Regions from separate parts of the Homo sapiens genome. Here region 1 is linked to region 2. The links come from fine-mapping of genetic effects on gene expression. Tissue or cell type: fibroblasts. Region 2 holds a variant in brackets; the other region holds the start of a gene. All regions are shown on one strand. Distances are from middle to middle.

Region 1 (11,921 bases), 630 kb after region 2:
GCAAACTAGAAATATGTTGCATAATTCTTTCAGGGAAATATGTTGTTGTTATTGTTTCTTCATAGAATCTCAATTTAGGCTTTTCCTGCAAGACCAGTCTTACTTTTTTTTTTTACAGGATGTATGGCTATTATTTAATAGTTTTGATTTCCATTTAGTTACTAGTCAGTTTCATCAATTGGTTTAGTCAGGGAGCTCAGTCAAAATATGTGGGCTTGTATAGAGATAGCCTAAATAGAAAGGATGGAGAGAAAGAGAGATGGAGAGAGTGAGACTGACTCTACATTTTAATATCACTCAATTTAGAACAGAGCAATACATAATACATACTTTCTAACTTGGCCTTGTAATTATGCCAGGGGAAAAAGGGAGGCCATCTGATCATTTATGAAGAGGAAAATATAGATTTAAAATTGTGAGGGCAGATTATAGAAGACAAACAGAAAAAAAACAGCATATACATTTGGAAGATGTAAGCTTACTTGTTGTGCTGAATGGCAGAATCTCCTGAATCCTTCATTCTCCTTTCTCTAAAATAGAGGGTTCATATGTACTTGGTGAGATTGACATGTTATTCAAATGAGAGAGGACTGAAGAGCCAGAACAGAGATTCAATACTATTGCAAGTATAATACTTTTCAAAATTGAGTGAGTGAGGTAAAGACACTCATTCTGTGCCAGTGGAACTCACATATGGAAATTAGTCCAAAAACCAACTTTTAAAAACTCAAATTATTTTTAGAGATATTTTCATTTTTTGTCTTATTTACTGTTTAAATAATATTTTATCCCAAAAAACTAATAAGTTTTAAAAATCTCCATCCAAAATAAAATAACTGGAGAATGTTCCCAAGGCCTATAGACTATACAATTTGTGATTGCTCTGTTGCAATTTCATTTCTATGTCTCTAGACAATGGTTTGTGACACAGGTTAAATTTGGGAATAGCTATCCATGTGAAAATGTATAGCAACTCCACAGAAGAAAATAAAAAGCATCCCTTGACATTTTTCTGTTTGATTAGCTAATTTTCCCTACTCTCCCCCCTCCTCTGCCAAAACCAAAAGAAAAACCTTCTTATTTGACCTTTCTATGCATCAAGATAGTTTTGGTCATTATTCTTGGATTATATGGGGGAAGCCAGGTTTCTTGAAGAAATTTAAGAAAAGTTTTAAAACTATCTAAGGTAGACATAGATATTTTCTCATAGGAGTTTGGCTGAGCATATATTCTGATTAATTCATAATGGAACTCAGTCTTTGGCTTTATTTTCTTTAGCATTCTGCTACTAAATGTATTGCTTCAAATTATAAGCATTGGGTATACCATAATTATATTCATTTCAAAAGCAGATAATTTTGACACGTGTTTCTGCCACACAGTCAGATTCTGTTAAAACAAAATACTTGTTATATCGAAATGTATTAGAATATTATATGCTATGAGTCAAAAAATAACTTAAAATTTTTTTCATTTCACTTTTTTTTTTGTCCAGATAAATAGACATGTTTATCTGGAGTTTTCAAAAGCAAAAGTTTCATTCATAAAAACCATCACCAATTTTCAAGCCAGAGTGGTATTTTTAATGGCGTTTGTGCCAAGGAAAGCCATTTTAAAGCAGATATACAGACACACATAAACACACACAGAGAGAGATTAAAAACGGGGTTGGGGGCAATTGTATAGTTGGGTTCCACTTACTACTAACTTAGTTTGACGAATGATATCATGTTGGCACAGGCATGTTTAACTTTTAGGATTAATTCTACTTTCTTTGAATGCATCTATCTAGAATGAAGACAAGTGTTTCCTTTGTACAAGAATTGTTTTGACAGACAGCCACAGAAGATAGAGAAATCTATCAGTATGTTTGATTGGTACTTTTTACTACACAGAATTCCTATAACCAGGAAAATGCTGAAGGAAAGGGAGGGAGAGTTGCACATTTCACATTAAGATACAAAAATTAATGGCAGAAACATAAAAAACTGGATCCATATATAGAATGGAGAAAAGACATAAAGTTCCCTCAACATCATAATCCTTGTAGAAGACCAAGTCCTGTTCAGTTCAGGTGACTTTAAATGGAGCTGATTTTTATGGTATCCCCTGGGCTGAGAAAAGAAATTGACAAGGTAACTGGCAAGAAACTAATGTCCTGGATCCAATAGATTTGCAAACTAAGTATTTCTGCATACCTCCACCTTGAAAAACAAGCAGCATTTAGAAAGTGTCATCTAAGTCCTAAGAATACATTAACCATATCACTCATCTAGCACCCTTTCTAAGAAAATTTCCTTTACCTTCACTTACATTTTTAAAAAATCACTTCCATATTTGTAATTCTAGCACAGTTAATATTTAATTTTTCTGCAATATTCTCATGTCTCTCTCCATTCTTAGAGGTCTAATTATATTCAGATTCACACTGGTGGCACTTTCCTTAAATTATTTTTATACTGTAAATATTTTCATATAATGTTTTTAATAATGAGATAAAAACATTTTAAGAAATTATTTTGTCTAAAGATATTTTAACCTATTCAAGAAATACTGATTCAGATTCTGATGTATGGCAGAATCCATCCATCCATCCATCCATCCATCCATCCATCCATTCATCTTTTTCCTAAATTTATCTTCAGCTTTCTCTTAACTCCATTTTTCCTCCTGAATTCTGTTTTCTGCAATTCACATTCTTTCTTATTGTTTTAGCACATTTAAATTCTTTCTTTACCTTTTCCATTTTCTCTTTTCTCTCTCACTCAGTTTAAATTTGAGCTTGAGAAGAGAGAAAGAGAACAAATTCAAAGATTAGCAACCTCTTCAAAACAAAACTTTAATGTTATTTGTGGCATATGAAGAGACATAAATCGCAGTTCATTCTTCTTTGAGGGGAGATTAAAATTTTGATATACATTTAATTGCCATTGTTTGATGGTTTTCTATACAGATACATTAAAATGACTATAACAGCATGAACTTTAATTATTTGGAAATGTGTCTCCACATTGTATCATACTCGAGAATTTAACACAGACTAGCATTAGGCCTCTCAATCCCTTTTCAGAAAATTTGACACTTTAAGATATACTTCCTTTTAAGTTTTAATCCTTATCAAGCAATACTTTGATATGATATGACATTGTTATATGACAAATTAGTTGATTCTAAGTGAATCTGATTTATCTTCCAATTTTGGCTGTTAAGAGTTACAAAGATGTTTCCTTTTTAAGATGTGATAGAATGTAATAAAAACTTACATGTACATTAGTTTAGCTCTATATAGAATCAATATAAACTAATAAAATAAACAATAAGGAATTAAAAGACAAGTGCACGTATATGGTTTGAACATAAACATACGAGTTAGTTTCAAGCCTTGTTCTATTTAATACAATGTTTGAACTTATGAATGTATAAAGGAAAAACACAGCTAGAAGGTAATACAAACACTTCTGATATAGTTCATACAGTTTGAGAAGCTACCTATTACACAATAAGTACACGTAGAACCTAAATGTGAATTCTCATTTTTTGTCAAGCAGTTAGCTCTTGCACTACAAAACGCATCTGTATAATTCACATGCCTGTTCTGTTATTCAAGGACGATTGACATAAGCCTGTGCAGAAAGTTACATCTCATTAACCTCTTTCTTGAGTTTATATTCCCATATCTTCTGTTTCAGCATATTAGTGAGGGAAGCTTGTCATAATGCAGTAACACTTTCTTTCTTAACTTTCAACAAGATTTCTCTCTTTAAAATTCCTTTTTCCAAATGGGGCCCATCCTTTTCACTTTTGGTAACTGTGAGAATTTTAGCTCTTTGCTAACAGTTTTGAAAGTGTGTTAAATATATAATAGTGGCAAAGTGCTGGTCTACAATTATTTTTACTTGTGCTATCTGATATAGTACTTCATGTGGACGTGGTGATACAACACGACACTATTTCATTTTTTAGAAAAAAACTAGCAATCGTTTACCATGTGCTCTGCTTCTATCTTAGATGTTCCTCTCCCTCATGAAACTAAATTGGCACCAAATATAATCCTCTTAGTTATTTAATATTCTATCTCAGAAGAAAGTTGTGGGGTCTGTATTTTTTATGTTCTATACAAAATTCTCTTCAGATATTTACTCCAATCATGGTAGCAGTAGTTCTATCCTCATAAATGTATACAAAAGCATTGAGAACTCAGCTTTAGATGAAGTCAAATTTCTGGAGATTGGAGACTCAATCAGGAAGAGCCCAATAGCAGTAGTCTGCCAGTACCATTATATTTTGCTAGCATACTGGGCTGAAAATCTCCATTCTGTTCATCTGCTCTGGTCCAACTTCAAACATTTTTCCTAAGAAAGGTTGAGAGCTGATTGTTCCAGATCAAAGACATCATCATTTCAAGGCGAGCTATGTGCTTCCATTTCATCAGTATAGTTTCCAACCATTCCACACCAACTTCAAGGCAAGTTGAGCAAGTTCAGAAGCTATGGTTAGGTGGCAATGATATGCTTAAAAGATTATCACCAATAAGTGTCAGATTTCCTAAAGGAACTCAGATTAGTCCCACCACTGGTAGAGGAAATAACACGTGTAGGTATGTTACAAAGGCTAGAATCTGGCTGCCAACAGCAGGTTGAATAGAAACACTGCAGTTCATTCCCCTGTTCTTTCCTATAATGAAGCAATATTTTTTGTCAATTCATAATCTGCTTCATGTAAATACAATAACTAAATCTCCCAATGCAACATTCTGCCTATTTGCTTGGCATTGGGATCTGGGTTTCTTTCTCTCTTTCTCTCTCTCTCTCTCTCTCTCTCTCTCTCTCTCTCTCTCTCTCTCTTATTTAAACTAAAAAGCTGAACTATACCAGTCAATATAAGCTCATTTTCTGATTTTAAAAAAATCTATGATACTTCTGATTTTACTTTAACCAGTTAACCATTCCAAGGCCAGGGCCAGTGCCCCAAATATTCATCTAGTATTTTCCTCCCTTTTTCACCAGTGCATCTGTTGTCAAAGATTATTAAACTCGCACAGGGATTCTTGATTTTCCAGATGAAAAGTTTATAGAATCCCGGCTTTTTCTAATTCCTACCTCCTTTCTCCTCTGCTCCCCATATCCATTCCCTTCTAAACTTCTACCATTCACCAGCTGCTTGGAGAAAAAGGAAAAGCAAAGCGCCAGACTGGAGAGAGGCACTCCAGGGGTGGGTTAGCCCCTCAGAGCACCTGGGCTGTGTCACAGACCCTCATAATCGAAAAGTCAATTTCAAGCAGGTGCGTGCGCCCGGAATCGTCCTAAAAGCCTCTCTGCTGATGACAGGACTCTGACCCCAGTCTGCCCCCAGGAAGGGGCTATAGAAACGAAAGGGGCCTGAATCGGCGCTTTCGCCGCTCCACGGACCTCGAATGCAGCAGGTAAGGAAGTTAACCTGGGAGCTAAGTTGAGGGCGGACACGCTTAACGCGGAGAACCTGGAGCTCGCAAAAGCTCGCAGTTGAGGGCCATCGCGGAGGGAAGTCTTTCGGAAATGCGAATTCTCATTCCAACATCTGCAGCGCTTAGAATTCGCGGACAGAAGCGCACAGCCAAGTGCACACACTCCCGGAGGGGACAAAATGGGGACCGGGAAACGGCCAAAGGGAAAAGCTGTGGGGGTGCCGAGGACTCAGGCACTTGGTTCAGAAATCCCGCACCGCACCTCTCACCCCCGCACAGGGCCAGCGCACGGTGGTCACCCGGTCCCGGGGAGCGGAGCTGCAAGGACTTAAGTTTCACACTCACTTATCTGCAAGCATCGCCCAGCAGGAAAGCCAAGGAAGTCAGGGGAGGGGAGCGGGGAGGTGTTCTCCTTACCTCGGTCGGCTCCCACGGTCAGCACCCTGGCAATCGGCAATAATCCCGAGAGAGTGAGTAAGGCGAGGAGAAACTCGGACATTGTGGTCGCCCGGTAAGGAAGCCTGCGCTGGAGACTGCTCGGCGGCACCTTCGGCCCGGCGGCGGCGGCGGCGGCAGGGGCCGCTTGGAGCCTGGAATCGAGCGGCGTCATTTACAAATGTCACTGGAAATTCTTCAGCTCAATGAGTCCAGCCAGTCAGCCTTCTCCTGCCTGGAGCAGGATGTGGAAGGTGGAGGGATGCGCGCGTGCGGGAGAGAGGAGGCAGAGCGTGTGTGAGCGCGAGCGAGACGCCCGTGTGTCTTGACTTTTCAATGCAGGGTACGTCTGATCTTACATCACGCAAGAGGGGCAGTGAGAGATGCCAGCGGATGGGAATTCACTGATTAATCACCGAATCCACCACACACCCCTTCGTCGTTCACATAAATCACATCTATTACTTAATAAGAGGCATTTAACACAACAGGAAAATACCACCGCGAACGGAGAGCGCCACAAATCACAATTATTTTAATCCCCTTGAAGGGAAAGTAACTCGAAGCTGGTTCTGTGGGGATTTGGGTCTTTGGAGAAGGGAGAGACTTCTGCATTGGCCTGAGCCAGCCAGGCGCCTACAATGCTCCGCAGTTCACAGCCAGCTGAGAACCCTCAGCCGAGCACAGGGCTGCTTCTGCAGGCAAAACAAAGCTTCTCCCTTCGTTCCTCGGAAGCTTCCTTCCCGGGAAGGAAGGACAAGCCAAGGAACAGAGCTTCTCTTAGGGAAATGGTTTCCTCGGCTCTACACAGAATCCCAGTACTTCCTGAATTGCACTTTTAACTTTTATGCTGAGCAGCACCTGGGGACAAAGAGGCAAAATTTAGTGACTCAGCAGAAACAGAAAGCAAAACAACCCCCAAAGTCATTAACCGTTGCGTAAGAAGGGAAGGTTAATGGAAAAGGCTATTGAGGTCCCCAGGCAGGGAACAATAAAGCAACGAATTGGCAGCGTTTTTCTCTGGGGTTCTGTCTTTAAAAGGGTACTTCGAGCCATTTTAAACAGGCTTTGAGGGTTTTGTTGTTTTTGTTTTGTGTTTTGTTTTGTTTTCCTTTTCCATATACTACAGGGGCGGTGTAAGAACTTTCCCGAGCCATCGGAGGCATCAACGGGAATCACTGGAATAATAATATTAGTAAAGTTGTTTTTATGACCACTTAAGTTTACAACATGATCATCCCAGTCCCTAAAATTTTAGTTTGCCATTACAAAGTGGCTACGGAATTAAAACTCAGAAATCTTAATAGTTGTAGACTTACTTTCTTCCTTGTAACATCAGGAATTCTCTTCTAAGAACAAGAGTTGAAAAGGTTTTATATTTAATATTTTGAAACTGGACATGAGTGGAGAGGAAAACTATGAGAAGGGAACAGAACTAAGGAAGAGAACGATTGAAAAGTGAAGGAAGATGCTTTAAAAGCTTTATTTACTTTGCTGTTTGAGACTTATAAGTGAATGCCAGCATTACTATCTACCTATTTATGAGAGTAAAATTATCCAGAAATATCTTTAGATGCTCCTTTGAAGCCATTAAAAACTGGACTAGATGAAAGAACACAGAGATGACTTTGCAGAACATTGTCAATAATCTGTGGATTTCACCTTTTTATTCTTACTCTGTGATTATAAATGTATTTTATGTCACTTTTTCCATGTTTTAAATTATAAAGTTTACTTTCCCTTGAAAATACAACCATTTTGTGTTTGAAATATGACTCCTACATTCAAAAGTGTATGCTTAATTTTTTTTTTTTTTTTTGAGACGGAGTCTCTCTCTGTTGCCCAGGCTGGATTGCAGTGGCGCGATCTCGGCCCACTGCAAGCTCCACCTCCCGGGTTCACGCCATTCTCCTGCCTCAGCCTCCGGAGTAGCTAGGACTACAGGCGCCCACGACCATGCCCGGCTAATTTTTTTGTACTTTTAGTAGAGAAGTGTATGCTTCTTTTCTTCTAAAGTTGTTACATGTCTAATTTTTCCTAGATGTTTTTATTATTTCATAATATAGTGTACAATATAGAATAAAAAGATTTTTTTACATATTTTACTTCATACTGAAAATTCACAAACTTTGAAATGAGTGGCAGAGTTTAAAGAATATGTGTGTGTGCGCGCGTGTGTGTGTGTGTGTGAGAGAGAGAGAGAGAGAGACAGAGAGAGATTTGAATGATGTGCCAAGTAATAAATGTTTCTTTCTCGAGGGTCCACAGACCTCTGTATTGTATGACAAACTTATTCACTGGGACAACGTAGCAGGTGTCTTTCTTACATGATCCCATTCAGTCAACTAGAAGGTCAGCTATTAGGAGATCTGTATCCACTTAACTCTTGGCAAGAAAATGAGGAGTGCTTACAAACCATACTAAGGACATCCAGATTCTTCCTCTTCTGAAAGATTACCACCAATCGCCCTCCACTTCACTGCAAAGTAAAGGAAAGCAGCCAGGAACAGTATGACCCACCAAAGACTTTTACCACATACTAAAGTGCCCCAATGCTATGATTAAAAATCACTAACTCATTCACTTCTGTAGTACGTGCAGCAGCCCTAGATTCCATGGTCAGCTTGGAAAAGGGAAAAGCTAGGAAAGATCATAAGAGTAGCAAATACTCAGGAGATTTTGTATTCTAAATATACAACATTCCAAATACGTAGAGCCTCCTAATAGCCTGTTAAATGAATTAGCCAGAGTAAAAACCATATGATCTTTTTAGATCATCTGGTTGACTTTTTTATTTCATTGAGTGGAAAAAAATCAAAAATGCATTGTCTGCACATTGTGACCAGAATAATAAAGCAAAATAGAATTCTTAAGTAATCACCAATTAAGTCAGTAATCATGAATGACATAGGACTCAAAACAGTTACTATAAAATAGTGATAGTAAATATGGAAGATTAGTTACTAAAGTATAGGCTGGAGCACCAATAAAAGGTAACATGATAAGCCTAATTTCCACTGTGAATTAATCTTAATGAAGTATTATCTATAAAATAAAATTTGCAGCTTTAGGCTGGACACAGTGGCTCACACCTGTAATCCTAGCACTTTGGGAAGATGAGGTGGGAGGATCACGAGGTCAGGAGATTGAGACCAATCCTGGCCAACATGGCGAAGCCCCGTCTCTACTAAAAATACAAATATTAGCCGGGTGTAGTGGCATGCACTGGTAGTCCCAGCTACTCAGGAGGCTGAGGCAGGAGAATCGCTTGAACCTGGGAGGCGGAGGTTGCAGTGAGCCGAGATCGCGCCACTGCACTCCAGCTTAGGGGACAAAGTGAGACTCCATCTCAAAAAAAAAAAAAAAAAAAAAAATTGAAGCTTTATTTTAAGACCATGATTAATAAAGATCTAAATGGTATAAAACCTCTCTCAAAAATTTGGTGAAAGTATAGGTGCTTAGGTATGCACCAGTACTTAAGTGGACAACAACACATGAACTTAAATGCTTGTTAAGAGTTTTTAAGACTAAAATTTATACTAAGGACACTGATTCATACCAAGAAGCCAAAATATGAAATAAACAGATTAAATATTAAGCAGAAAATATATATTTGCTCCAAAACTGAAATAAAGCCGGTGTCAAAATGAAATGGGATAAAATTGTCTGTCCCACATCAAATCTCTTATATAAAGTGGTTCTTCTTCCAGATATTCTTTGAAAATGACCAGTTTATAAAAGAAGATTGGTTTCTATGAGCATCAGTGAGGTTGATAAAAGTGTAGACCAAATTTGAGCTTTAAAATTAAATAATTTGCTCCTAGGTTTTAAATGACCATTGAATGTTAATGGATCATAAATAAATGAAAAGCTTAAGTATAATTTTCTATGAAATACTTTTGTTTCCCCATAATATATGCTTTAATGAAAAAATAAATTAATAAAGTGCACTATTAGTGAAGAGGGAAAAGCTTGAGTGAGCGTTCGAATTTTGTTTGTTACTAGGCTCCATTATAATTTATTCATTCTAATCAGAGTTATTAACACTGACAAGTTAAATTAATTCATCAAACTATAGAATATTATGAAATCTCTCATTAAGATAAATTAAACAAAGTAGAACCAATCATTCTTCCTTTTTGTTTTAAAACAACACATGAATGCTAATTATCAGTCAGTGGTAATCTTACACTTCCCAATTAGAGCCACAGTTTCCATACATGTGATCAAACATCACATTTCATTTCTGCTAACTTAATTATTTTTGTGAGATTGGATTTCTTACTGTAGATAGTAACAATTTGTGCTACACATCTGAACATCGTTAAGTTAGGGAGAGGACGTGTGTCTAAACAAGCTGGAGCTGACAGTCTGTCTCATGGAAGAGATGTGTGTGAAGGAGAGTTGGCCTGAAAGTTAGGTTGCTAAGGATTTCTGCAGCTATCATTGCAAGGCCTGCTAAGTTTCTTACCCTGCCTTTTTCCAGACAGAAAAGTTGCCAGGCAGCAGCAGACACAAGATGAAAAAGAAAGGGAAGAGACTGAGAGAGACAGGGGGCGGAGGAGGTAGAGAGAGAGAGAGAAAGGATTATTAAGGAAACATCATCAGTTCTTTAACTTGAAACAGAGTTACTCTGGACAAAGCCTCTAAGAAAAATAAAAAACTTTAGATGCAAGTTATTTCTCAAACTGCAACAGATCAAGGCACATTTTTAACCGCTTTTCTTCAAAAGTGGGTTCTGTTTTTCAGCATACTGTCTCAATTAGGATACAAAGATTTGGTTGAGATAAATAAGATTTTGGTGTAACTTTAATTTTTACTATTAAGCAATTATTAGGAGGTATGCACAATTGAAAAGAAAATTAAGAGTGATGCAATTATCTAATTACATCTGGAAAGCAAAAATATTTCCAAGACAATTACATTGGTCTTCTCTTTTTATATTTTCAGCTTCTCTTTACTGTTACTATCTGTAAATGTTTTAAGACATAAATATTATGGCAAAAAGCATGACTGAGGGCAATTATAAGTTTCAGAAGACAATATAAGCTTTAAATACTGATTTGATTATTTGGATTTTTTCTGACTCTTGTTTGATAAACTTTTGACAGTAAAAATAAAAGGAGTCTACAGATTTAGACAAAGCCAGCAGAAGACTTGAAAGACTAAAGGTTATATCATTTTTTTCATTTTTTAAGGGATTGACATCCATAATAATAATATAGTCTGAAGATATAAATCCTATTTTGCTCTTTGGATATGTCAAGAGAAGGTACAATTGGTAATATTGCCATCCGTGTGTAGGTAATACAAAAATGTCAACAATTCATCAAATCCTTGTCACTCCACTCACATGGAATTAGCCCTCGGGTTTTAAGTCAGTTGCTGATTATAAGGTATGTTGCTTTGGTACTTTTAGACCCTGACATATGTGTGTTCAATACGAGCTCCACATTGCCTTCTCCAGACCCAGAATAGAATTAGTGTATCAGGTGGAGGGTTGATTGTCAGTGGACATGGTCAGGATGCACTTTGTCTGAATATGCCCTTGTGACATGTTTCTACCTATGAATATTGATCTCTGACCTTCTTTCTGGTCATCATCTTGCTGCTCCTTAATTATAATTAGAGACTTTAAGATTGTTGGAGCTGGGAGGAGCATTCAAATAATCTACTCCAATTTACCGTATTTTGCAAATGAAAAATTTTTAGAGAAAGAAAACGTGACTAGTCTGAAGTCACACATTTTATTAATATCAGAAATACACCTTGAATAAAGCTTCTTGAATGCTTCCCGTATTATGTAGTCAGCTTTGTTGGTATTCTTTTAGTTTTTGTTGTTGTTGTTGCTGTTGTTGTTTGTTTTACTTCCCAGAAGTGGTAGCTCAGAGAATATGAATTTATTCATTCACTAAATATCTATATATTATGTGACAGACACTGTATTTAGCACCATGCATATAGCAATAAGGATAATAAACATAATTCTTGCAGGAACATAGCATATAATCTAAATAAAATATTAATATCATTCTTCTGCTAA
Region 2 (11,921 bases):
CTGGTGTAAAAGTAATTGCTGTTTTTGCCACTGAAACTAATAGCACCTTGATTTTCTTGTTTTAAACAGAGCTGAATGTCTTCAATTTATTTGAACCATTAAACAACTGCTAAATACACAGTATTTGGTGACTAGCGAATCAGCAAAAGGCTTCTCTTTCCTCATAGACCTCATCTACTGGCAATAGTAATTTTGCTCTACATTTTATAAAGCAATTACACCTTTCACAGCATACTAGATATGGAGGTTTATTTAGAGTAAAAGAAGAACACAGAAAACAATGAGATTCAGATTGAAACACACACACACAAACACACACACACACAGAGTTGTAGCATTACTAATAGCGGTAATGACACTAAACTACTAAATAGCTTCTGAATGGCCTGCAAAAATGTATCAACTAAAGATATCTGTTATTGAGATACTACAGAAGAATTCCTTACATTTATGGACAATTCTAATGATTTATATAATTGCAATACCCCTTTGGGAAAATGTCTTGGCTCAGGAAAAAATACAAAACTGTAACAATAGAAAGATTTTTCCGGTTATCTATGTTGTAGGCTATAAAAAAGGTAGAAACATAAATGAAACTCATATCAAGCAAATACACTAGGTAAACATTTCCCTCATCACTCTATCCTGTTTGAGGGACTCCAAAGCTGGTCAGCTTTACAATGAATTCTGCTCTACGATAAATACTGTTGTAGCAAGATTCCAGTGAGTCTTGTCTCCTCCATCAAATCTTCTTTCAGATATATTTGCAAAGAAAGTCATTGATTTATTTTTGTTTCATCTGCCCTTTCTGACCACTCATACCCATGGTAATGAGCAGGAAAATGGTCAACGGGATCTGAAACAAGAAGGTTAAGAAAAAGCAAAGGTCAACAGAAATGTACAGAATGGAAAATCAGGCACTGGGCAACAGACATGACCCAGTTTCAATCTGGCCTTAAATTCATAACATGACTCTTGAAAAGGTTCTTTTCTACAGAAGTTTGAACAGGTATATGCAAATAAAAATTCCAAAAAAGTAGAACACATTTTTACTTTTAAGTTTAATGTTTATTTTATTTATTCTGTAAGAGAATGCTGAAGAAGGTATTTGTCAATTCAATACCTTTACTACATGGAATCTGATTGAAACCTCGTTGAAGACTGACCTTTAAAGATTTGAGTATGTGAGTGCATGCACACACACACATACACGAACAATAATTTGGTAAAATAAAAAATAATGCTCTCCTATAAGCAACAAATATATAAATATACACATATATATCTGTCACTTCTAGAAAATATACAAATTCTTCTCTGCAACATTTTTCTTGTAGCTTCACCTATGTTCTCATTATGATATTATCTAATGAAGTTGATTAATGACAGCAATGGTAGAATAGCACAGTATTTAACACAGAAAGAGTAATCCAGGGAATTTCTTTAAGGATGCTTATTTATATGTAAAACTATCATGGAAACACTGTTATATTATTTTATTACAACTAAGATACACCTCAAAGCTTCTTCAAATATGACAGCTTAAAATTATTCTAGAATAATGTCGATATTTTGATATTTTATGCTGGAGTTCATCAAGGGTTTCGTCTTCCTTGATATTATTAAACAATTTCACCATTTTGCTACTCTGATCTGATTTTCATGGATTATGTCTCTCCTGAATTTGTATGTATGTGTCATAATAAACATTTGGTAAATGCCACATTCAGAGCCATACTATGCACTCTAAAAAAAAAATGCCAAACTTTAATGTACATCTGAATCACCTAGAGGTCTTAAAGTGCCGATTATGATTCAGTAGATATTTGTTGGAATTAAAATTCTGCATTTCTAGAGGTTCCCAGGCAATGTCGGTGCTGCTTCTACACAGACTACTCTTTAATTAAAGTGTAACGTTCTAATGCCTCCTAAAAGTAGACTTAAAACTCAGTGCCCATTTTCTGGAAATACGTTCATTGAAATCGAGCTCCTAAACAGAGCATCTCATTTCATTCAACCACGAATTAAACACGATGTCGCTTACAGAAGAACATGCACACTTAGTTTTCATCTTTTTATGAATATTAATATATTGGCACATCCTGGAAATGCTGACCTGTCACAGATTCTTATGAATGAGTCTGTCTTTGGAAGAGCATATGCATTCATAGTCAGGTAAAAATCTTCTAAACACTACATAGGAATTTGCTTGTATCATCAAAGAAGAAATAAGAAAAATGTCATGGGTTATGAAGAAGAAAAGAATAGAAAAGAAGAACCAGATATAAAATGTGAGAAATTATGAAAAAAGAAGAAGAACCAGATATAAAATGCGAGAAATTATGAAAAAAGTCTGTTTTCTGTGGTTTGTTTTTAGAAACAGAATTGATAGCATGAAAGTACAAATGATCTGATCATATGATGTCATATCTGACAGCTCGGTTCAAATTTTATCAGTCACTTCTCAATTTACTGCACATTATCATACATCAAGGATCAGCAGCCTCAGTAGCTATGAGTCAGAACTTGTGACATAAGAAAAACAAAGGCAGAAGACCAACTTCCACTTTATTTGCAATTTCTCATATATTATAAATATATTAGAAGTAGAAATATATAAATGCACACACAGACATCCCCCAATTTATTTTTCTTCTTACTTTCATTTGTTTCCTTATTTTCTCAAAATTTACTTCTGGAAAAGTGAGGTGGAGAGTTTATGTATCTGGGAAACTGGCATGAAGGACATTTCAAAATACTTTTTTTAGAGGCAACTATTTTCTCTCCTCTGCTACCTGCAATTACTCACACCTCTACCACTGCATGTACTAACCATGCTTTCTTCAATTTTTAATTATGTTGTTAACAGAGATCCTAATCTGGGTCTACTTGAAAACAAACAAAAAACACCTCTGGTAGCAACTTGGCGTCCTAGTTTACAGCTATAAAATAACCTAGAATAACTGAATAAGGAAGTACCGGGTTTTTTCTCCTACACCACATTTGTGTGAAGTGAGAACAGGAAGGAAGGTCCAGGATAAAGAAATCAGGCGATGATAGAAAAATAAGCAAATAAGCACTGCAGGATGTTTGCTGTTTGGCCAAACTTCTCTTTAATTTTCCCTACGATTGAAAAGCTATAAAAATGCTTAAAGAGTTGAATAGGTGTCCACTAGGCCTGAACTTTAGCGCAAATCTACTGAACAAACTATGATGATAAATTACAAAATCCTGAAGAAAAAGTTGATAAATGCAGAGTTTTTTAAATGGGCAATGAAAAATTACATTTATTTTATCATAAAGACATTTAACCTGACTTTTAACTTTTATGAAAATAAGAGAATAAAAAAATTATATTTAGGATATAAATTAATTTTGAATCTTTTAAGACATGTTTCTAAAAGTAAAAATAACCTAACACAGTCATACGAAAAAAATGCAGAACCACTAAAACTTAACGTTAGTATCTAAATATTGTGACTTTTCAAAAGTACATCTCTAAATACTTGAAATTTTTGGTTTTATAACATTAAAAACTTGAGTATCTCAGGAGCAAATGTACCTATATAACATTAGTATTTGATGCTAAGATACTATAAAGTATAGAAAACTAATTTATGACCCTAATAAAATATAGGCATGAAATTGTTTAGTTGCTGAAAAGGACTAGTGGAGTAATACACATTTTTAAACAAAACCAAACAAACAAAAAACAGGAAGACTTTGGTGGTCTGAAATGAACTCCTTCATCTACAACACTCTAACACCTTGTACTATGTACAAAGTTCTACTGAGGAGTAAAAGTCCCAGACAACATCTTTAAAATCCTTTTTTTTTTTTTTCTTTTTTGGCTAAGGTTCTGAGCAATATAGTTCCATAGGCTACAATTCTGGACCTGTTCTCTTCAAGACATTTTTTTTAAATGTGAGTTTTAGGACACTGTCATTTTGAAATATAAATCCTCTTGCAAGTTTCCTACCTGGTAAAATAACTTTTCGCAATGGTACCCTTTTATAATGTTCACGATCTATTATGGCATCAGTAAAACTGCTGGAAAAATACATTTTTACCAGAAATCCAGTCCCTTAAAAAAGTATCTAAATCATCCCCACTCCCCCAGCCCCCATCCTGCAAAGGAGCTGCTTCTTGGCTAGCATTTGGAACAACTGCATAATGGCTCATATCTTTTCAGTCATTCCAGGGAAACTATGATGGAAAGAAACTACCTCTGCACACTTCCATATTTGTGTGGTGAATCTCTGCCACAGACATTCTCTGCATGCTTTCTATCTTTGAGTAGGAAATCTATTGTATGTGTTTCTGTTGTGAATATCTCTAAAATTCAGTGAGGGCTTCTACAAAGTCATCCTTGCTTAGATAGGCAAATAACGACACCCAATCTGTTCCATCCAGGGTATCATTTCCTCAGAATAAGGTGGTCAGTACATAAATAGATTTCATTTTCAGCAATGTCTTCTCTCATGAATTAATGTCTCTACTCTGATCTGAGAAACTACAGAAGAGAATTCATTGTTAAATTCAGAAGAAAGGCCTTCCCTTGTTAATAATGTGGTTAACATGTATTTAATAATGCCCATATATCAGGCTGTGTTCTAAGCTTTTTTAGGCTTATTAACTAACTCAGTCTTCTGACCAATCTTAAGAGTCACACTTGTTATTTTCATTTTACAGGTGCAGAAATAGAGACCCAGAGATAACTGTCTTGTGCAATGTCACAGCGGTTATTTTGGGAAGTCAGAATCTAAACTTAGGATTTTTATCTTCAGGGTCCACACAGTTATTCACAACGATCCACTGCCCATGTAACTATATGACAGAGTAACATCGCTTCCTTCCGGTAATACCTACGCCTCTTACTTGTTCACATTGGCCCTGTCTGGTTCTTTTCGCTTTGTATCCTGTGTATGATCTCTCAAATCCTGCTTGGATATATTTGTTTTGCTTTGAGTTTTAGTTTGTTTGTTTGTTTTAACTCTTTCCACATCCTCTTTGGAAGGTTCTTTATGTTCCTATAGAGAGAGACAGGACTGGGTTCTGTGCAACATGTCATAATCATCAGTTATTTAAATGAAGACTCAGATGTCACATTTTAAAAATTTCCAAGTGAATGAAGATTGAAAACATAGTTAATATATGGAATATTAAAGTATGACATTTTTAAGCTGACATGATTGGCAAATAAAAAAGAAAATTAACAAAGAATAATGTAAAGTTTTAATTTGAAATAAAAAAATAAAATATATAGGATTTGTGTTAGTATTCGGCATCAGGTTTCCTTAATAGATGCAAATTTGTATATCAAATCTTGAATTTGTTTATTACCAAGGAAAATGAAGTTACTTCTTTTTTTTAGAACACATTTAGAGTTGAAGGGGATCAGAATATTCTACCCCCAAAGATGCCACTTTGACATAAGGATTACTTTGAGCTAAAGGCAATTAAGGAACAGCAGATATGGGAGGAACTATCTTCCTTCCCTTTTTCTGCCTAAAAGCAGAGCATACATTTTTCTTTGTGAAGGTGTTTCTGCTCTTTTCTCCTGTATTAGGAAGAGGGGGATGTCTTACTGAAGACAGTGCATCACTGGAGAGGGAGCCTATTTGAGTCTGAATAACAAATGTTAGTAAAATAACCCTTGTCTTCCATTAGCTTTCCCCATATATTTACCTTCCCACAATTTACCATCCCTGTAAGCCCAAATCCCTTTGCTTTGTCTTGTCACATCTCCACAATTTATCAGCCTTTGTTAAAATGATATGTAAGCTCTCAAACCTAGCCACTACTTTGGACTTTCACTTCTTTTCTGTGAAGCTCCTGTGTGCATACGAAAATAAACCTTTCTCCTGTTGATCTGTGTTTTGTCACTTTAATTTGCAGGCCCCGGTTACTAAGCTAAAGAGCGCAGAACAGGTTTTTCTTACCTACATAGTACTAGGTACCATATGTTTAAAAAATCAACAAAGGTTTCTCATTCTATAAAAGGGAAATAAAATGGATGGAGTCTGGGAATTATATGGTAAGTCAATGATTTAAAAATTCAGAAATATTTGTCTCAGGAAGATAAACTATAGAAGGAATATTATGGCAAATTAAAGTATATGAAAGTTTCACAATGAAAGAGGGATTCGGTCAGTGGTTCCTCTTGGATTTCAAAAGAAAGCAGTTTTTTCATCCATATAGATAACACTTGCTGAGAACTAGGTGTATATAACAAGGACATAGTCTCATGAATTTACTGTTTACAGATAAATTCTAGCAAAGGGTGTCTGATCCTTTGGGATGATCTAGAGGCAACTCCTCTATTGCTTTAGAAATAAACAAGATCATTGCCACAGTTATTTCTGACAACAGGATTCTGAGTACTTCTATTTTCTTCATGTATCCTTTGATTTTTTTCATTGTTTGCCCTTCTCTTGGTCATTTTTCCCATTTCTTTTAGATGATATACTTATGTAAAACAATTTAATCATTCACTCTAAAGCAGACCATCATTTTCAAACAACAAAAACATATATATCTTGAAAAATCTTCTAAATATAATAGGACTTCTTGCAAAGTTGAACAATAATGATAATTCACTTTGTGCCTTTATTTATAGAGAAGTATT[C/T]CTTTCTCACTTAAGAAACTTTCATCTTCTTTGACTTTGATGAATTATGTAAATTTCACAAATTTTATTTTATGTATACTTTATTTTGAATTATAATACACTAATAAATTCAAGCTAGAAAATAGGTGTATGTGGTATACCTCAAGAACATAAGTATCATAAAATGGCTCCATGAGTCCCATAATATGAGATTCTGGAGAATTAAAGTTCAAAAACATCTTCTTTTTATGAATTCCAAGTGCCTAAAAGGAGAAATCATAGTATACTACATGAAAAGAAAATACAGCAGCCTGTAAATAGCTTCCAGTGTCCAATCAAGAAGTTGTCACTGATTCTGGCTTATACTACAGTATAATTAAGTCATTTTAGACTTTGAAGTTAATTACAAAATAATTAGAGGAGGGAAGTTACAACATTTTGTTATTGTTGTTGAAGTTGCAGTGGTGATAACTTGGTTTTCTGCAAAGTTAGCCTTGAGATCAGTGGTAAGCTGCTCTATACAAATGAAGCTATATACTGTAATTAACAACCATATGGGATGTATTCATGATGTAGTTGTAGCAAAGATCTAAAAGAAACATGCATTGTAGAGATTGACATAGAAAGTTACAATTTTTGGAAAAATTTGGCTGTAGCTACAGCATATTATTTGGTTGGTAGATTAAGAGAAATTGCTATAGAACTGATGTCAGATGCTCAGGCTTGAGTCTGGCATTCTCTAACAGTATGACTGAGAAAGTGACTGAAACAACTATGGCTTTTTTTTTTCCTGTCTGTCAAATGTTGAAAAGAAGGCACTGTGGAGGGAGGCACCAGCCTAACCTCATGATCTAACCTCAAAGTCTAACCCAGCTGTGAGCATAAAATGTAACAACAGATGGGAAATACTTTTAAATATCTGAACACTCCCCCCAAACAAATATAAGATTGAGTTGTGTTTAAATCTTGTCTAGTAGTGCAACTGCCTAGCTGGGGAGTCCATTTCGAAATACTCATTAACTTTATGAAATGAAACAACAGTTTCAGGATTTTTCATTCAAATATTCTGTAAGAATCAATATCCTTCTGAAGTAATGAAATGTGGGGACAAGAGAATATTTTTAGGATTTTCCCCAAGGGGAAGACAAATAGTTTAGCTATATTTGATATAACAAGGCTGATAATCTAATATCCTGGTCACCTTGAACTAAATGGTGAAATCCATTAAGGTTGAGGAATTTGTTTGCTCATGAATATTTGTATTTAACCTTCATTTTTTTAATCAAAAGATTCCAGCATACTTGAGACCTAACAAAATTACTTGATTTAAAATAAAAGGTTACGATCTCATGGGAATAGATAGATAGTTGAAGAAACACTCAAGAAAAAAATTTAGCCTATGGGAAACTGTTTCAGTATCATTGTTTAAAAACTAGGACAGCTGGCTGGGCGCAGTGGCTCATGCCTGTAATCCCAGCACTTTGGGAGGCTGAGGTGGGCGGATCACGAGGTGAAGAGATCGAGACCATCCTGGCCAACATGGTGAAACCCCGTCTCTACTAAAAACACAAAAATTAGCTGGGCATGGTGCCACGTTCCTGTAGTCCCAGCTACTCAGGAGGCTGAGGCAGGAGAATTGGTTGAACCCGGGAGGCGGAGGTTGTAGTGAGCCAAGATTGTGCCACTGTACTGCAGCCTGGTGGCAGAGGGAGACCCCGTCTCAAAAAATAAAAAATAAATAAAAATAAAAATTAAAAATAAGACAGCTAGGATATATAAGTTTTAAAGTCATGAAGGTTGTAATTATATTCAAGTTAAGTTTTAAATCAATTTTTAAATCTCTAAGGCTATTTTGCACATTAAAGGTTGTAATGTAAAAATGGACTGACCACACCAATGATTTGCTTGAATCCAAATTATTAGATACATATAAATAGAAGAATTTCAATTGTCACTTTTATCTCAAAGAAAATATGAGTTTACTTTATTAGGACTATATAAAAAATAATATATAATTATATATGAGTAATACATGAATAATATAATAAAGTAAACATGAATTTACTTTATTATGACTATATATAAGATATACAATATACAATACAATATATAATATAATATATAATAATATATAATACCATAATATACAATTATTTTTATATATATATTAGAGTAGAGGAAATATATATATTTCCAGGAAACCTGGACCCAGTTGATAAAGTTTTCCCTAACTACTTCTGATATTCCACTTATTTCCAACAGTTTCCAACCGTTGGTGATATAAGAATAAGAAATCTGAGAGTCAAATATCAATTGCCAAGTCTAAATTAAAATCTGTTACATTATACGTAGCCAAAATAATAATACTGCAGTTATGTATGACCATTCTACCTGTACATAGAATGTAGAAGTAATGCAAGTAAAATACTGGCTGTATTCATAATTATGTCCTCCTTCTATCTGTATAATTTGCAGTGTGCCAGAAAAACCCTCCCTCTCTCCCAATTCCTACTCATGCTTCTTCTAAAATATCACATCCTGGAACTCATTAACATCATAATATGAATACATCTTTTAATTCACTTTTCTTCTTCATACTAATACACAAAACTGGAGAACTAGGTATGTCAAAAGATTGTAAGGGGTGAGAGAGAGAATATGTTAAGGCACTCTTGTTTAAATATAATTAAGGCAAACTTTGCCATGTTGAAAACTTTGAAAAGAGAAACAACTAATAAACACAACAGAGCACTCCTTAATATATTTAAGCATTCAGGCAGATCTTAACACTAAGTATTTTACTCCATGTGTACACAGGAATAAATTAGAATTTTAATTATTTTACAAGGCTAACTCCGAAAGCTACCTTGGAAACGATTTAGGCTATTGGATTTCTGCCACCTCCAAATACTATCTAATACATTAATAATGGTTGTGGTTACTCACATGTCCAAAGGAGGGATATTGTGTGATAAATAATTTCTGCTTGCTGACACACTCGTATTTTTTGTAGATGAATTCTCCAGAGGTTTCATATTAATTAAGCCTGCTTTCGAAGATGAATTGGCTTATTTATAGTGCTGTGGCACTTAAAGACTGTAAGTTCTCCAAGGGCAGGATGATGTCTTAATAATTTTGGATTACTAGTGGCTAGTATAGGGATGAAAAATATTAAGTAATCATTAAATATTCACAAATTAATTCAGTAAGGCCTTATTTACTATGTAATTGATTTACAACTTCGGCTTGTAGATAGATCCCAGGAAAGCAGAGGATGAGAGAAATGACTCCACTTAAAAAAATGCCCATATGCTAATTGATGAAATCATTTATGTTCAGAAATAACTCATACTAAGTGATAGTTTGAAAATGGGAATTCCAACCAAGGAACAAACCTATAATAAGTTTAAGTCAGTAAATAAGCTAACTGTAACTTGTCTGCAGAAACAACACATTACCAGATGGAAGATAGCAAGAAATCTACAATGTGGGTGCCCAAGGAGCAATAATCTGTCCAGGTTGTAATCACCAAAGGATCAAGAACACTCTGGAACTCAAGGGATTGAGTTCTTACAATGGAGGTGGATGTCTTAAACCTGTGTAAGGGCTAGATTTGGTAGCTGCTAGTCACATATGGCTAAATTAAAATTCATATTAATTGCATTAGATTTTAATTAATTCAAATGAGTGTAAATTAAAATTAAGTAAGTGAAATTCAAATGAGTGAAATAAAATTAAAGACTTAGTTCTTCAGTCTCACTAGCCACATTTCTAGTGATCAATAGTTGAATGTGCCTAATGGCTAACATATTTGAAAGATAGGACATTTCCATCCTCACAGAAAGTTTTACTGGACAGTGTTACATTAGATCAAAGGTTTAAACTTACTTGTATTAGTATCACAATTTTGAATAATACATTTATTATTGCTTTGTTTGAGAAGAATAAATCCCTCCTCTCTCTCTCTATCTCTCTCTCTCCCCCTCTCTCTCTTCCCCTCCCCTCAATAATTTAGGTAAAGTCATTTCTATTATACTGATACAGTATAACAGCACTTCTCAGAGTCTATAAAAGCTCCAATGGTTATCACATATTCTTTGATCTCCTGCTCCCTGTAACCATTTCTTCATATATTCAGAGGCAAATATTTGTAAGTCTCAGCAAATCTTTTGTTGCAACTCGGATATCATACCAGGCCTCTAGGGCCTCGTCTTTCTCAGAGTAAATAGCACATTTTAAGTCCTGTTCAACACACACATACTTCTGGCATCCATTGCTGTAACAGTATGTATACTCACTTGTTATAATATGCAAGAAAACTATATTACACATATGGGCCAAAGTTGATACTGTACCTGTGAAATTTTCACAATGAAGCTGTGGACTGAAATCTATGAATTGAAAAATATTGCAATAGACCTCTTCTCTTTATAAGAGACTGTTAAAATTATTCAACATATACCTGTTACTATAATTTTGTCCTCACTAACTAAAATTTTAATTGTCTTTTAGTTACCTAGTTATAAAGTAAGCTTTTGAAATGGACAAAATATTCTAATCAGATGAAGCAAATAATATAGTTTGTATTTGTTTTCTGAGACTTAGTAACACATTCTGCTTGGTAGGCCAATCTCCATTAAGATTGCTTTAGGGTTGATTCCTAATTAACTCTTGTAAATTATCTGAATGTTCTAACTATGTCAAAGTGGTATAGTCTCAAGAAGCCTTTTCTGGACATCTTATCAGCTTCAGAATATACTGATACAATTTATTGACCATTCTTTATGCACCAACCACTGTCATTAGTTAAAAGAGAATAGTAATTTCCAGACTTCTAGAACATTTCCCTGTCCGGGAAAGACTGCCTCGTAACCCAGCTGTTGAGAAGTGTGACAACCCTGTTAGGGATAGAAATTCCTAATCATTTGTCATTAGACAAACGAGAGGAGAAAACTCCCTTAGTCTGCAGAAAAGCCTCAAAATGTTAACATTCTTTCCATTGGAAAGACAGACATAACAGCTTTGTTAATGGATTTCTTTGTGATTTAATACAACATATTAAAAGCAACACTTGTGACTCTTGAATAAAGAAGTGAATATTGTTTCGTGAAAATGGTCATTCATCATTAGTTATAAGAAGTCTGTTTGTAATTTGAAGTTTTAATTTAATTAGTGTCACATACTTGAAGGCTGCCTTGTGTCAACTGTTATAATGACATGCTATCTGTTCCTTCTACAGAGTAGGTTGCTAACAAGCATTTCAACTGGAACAAAATGATAATGAGAAAAACAACAGAAGTGTTAATTACCTATG

Which allele goes with the higher level. Alleles are on the strand shown, and positions count from the first base shown. SD is a standard deviation of normalised expression in the study named.
For the expression in fibroblasts of the gene that starts at base 6,229 in region 1, allele C in region 2 goes with a higher level than allele T (moderate effect, 0.55 SD a copy in GTEx).

What was found. PIP is the estimated chance that this variant, and not a neighbour inherited with it, causes the effect.
Region 1: LRP1B starts here. The variant in region 2 is fine-mapped to the expression of LRP1B in fibroblasts (GTEx, PIP above 0.99).

What each region holds. Positions count from the first base shown.
Region 1 is chr2:142,124,788-142,136,708 of GRCh38, forward strand. It overlaps LRP1B (LDL receptor related protein 1B), which reads right to left and starts at 6,229. Exons shown (of 91, transcript NM_018557.3): 1 at 5,861-6,229. The coding sequence starts at 5,942. RefSeq lists an enhancer at 6,097-7,296.
Region 2 is chr2:141,494,529-141,506,449 of GRCh38, forward strand. The region is part of intron 2 of LRP1B (LDL receptor related protein 1B); the gene reads right to left. Among named protein-coding and RNA genes, the nearest start is that of LRP1B, 630 kb to the right of the region's middle. The variant C/T (reference allele first, on the strand shown) is at 6,629.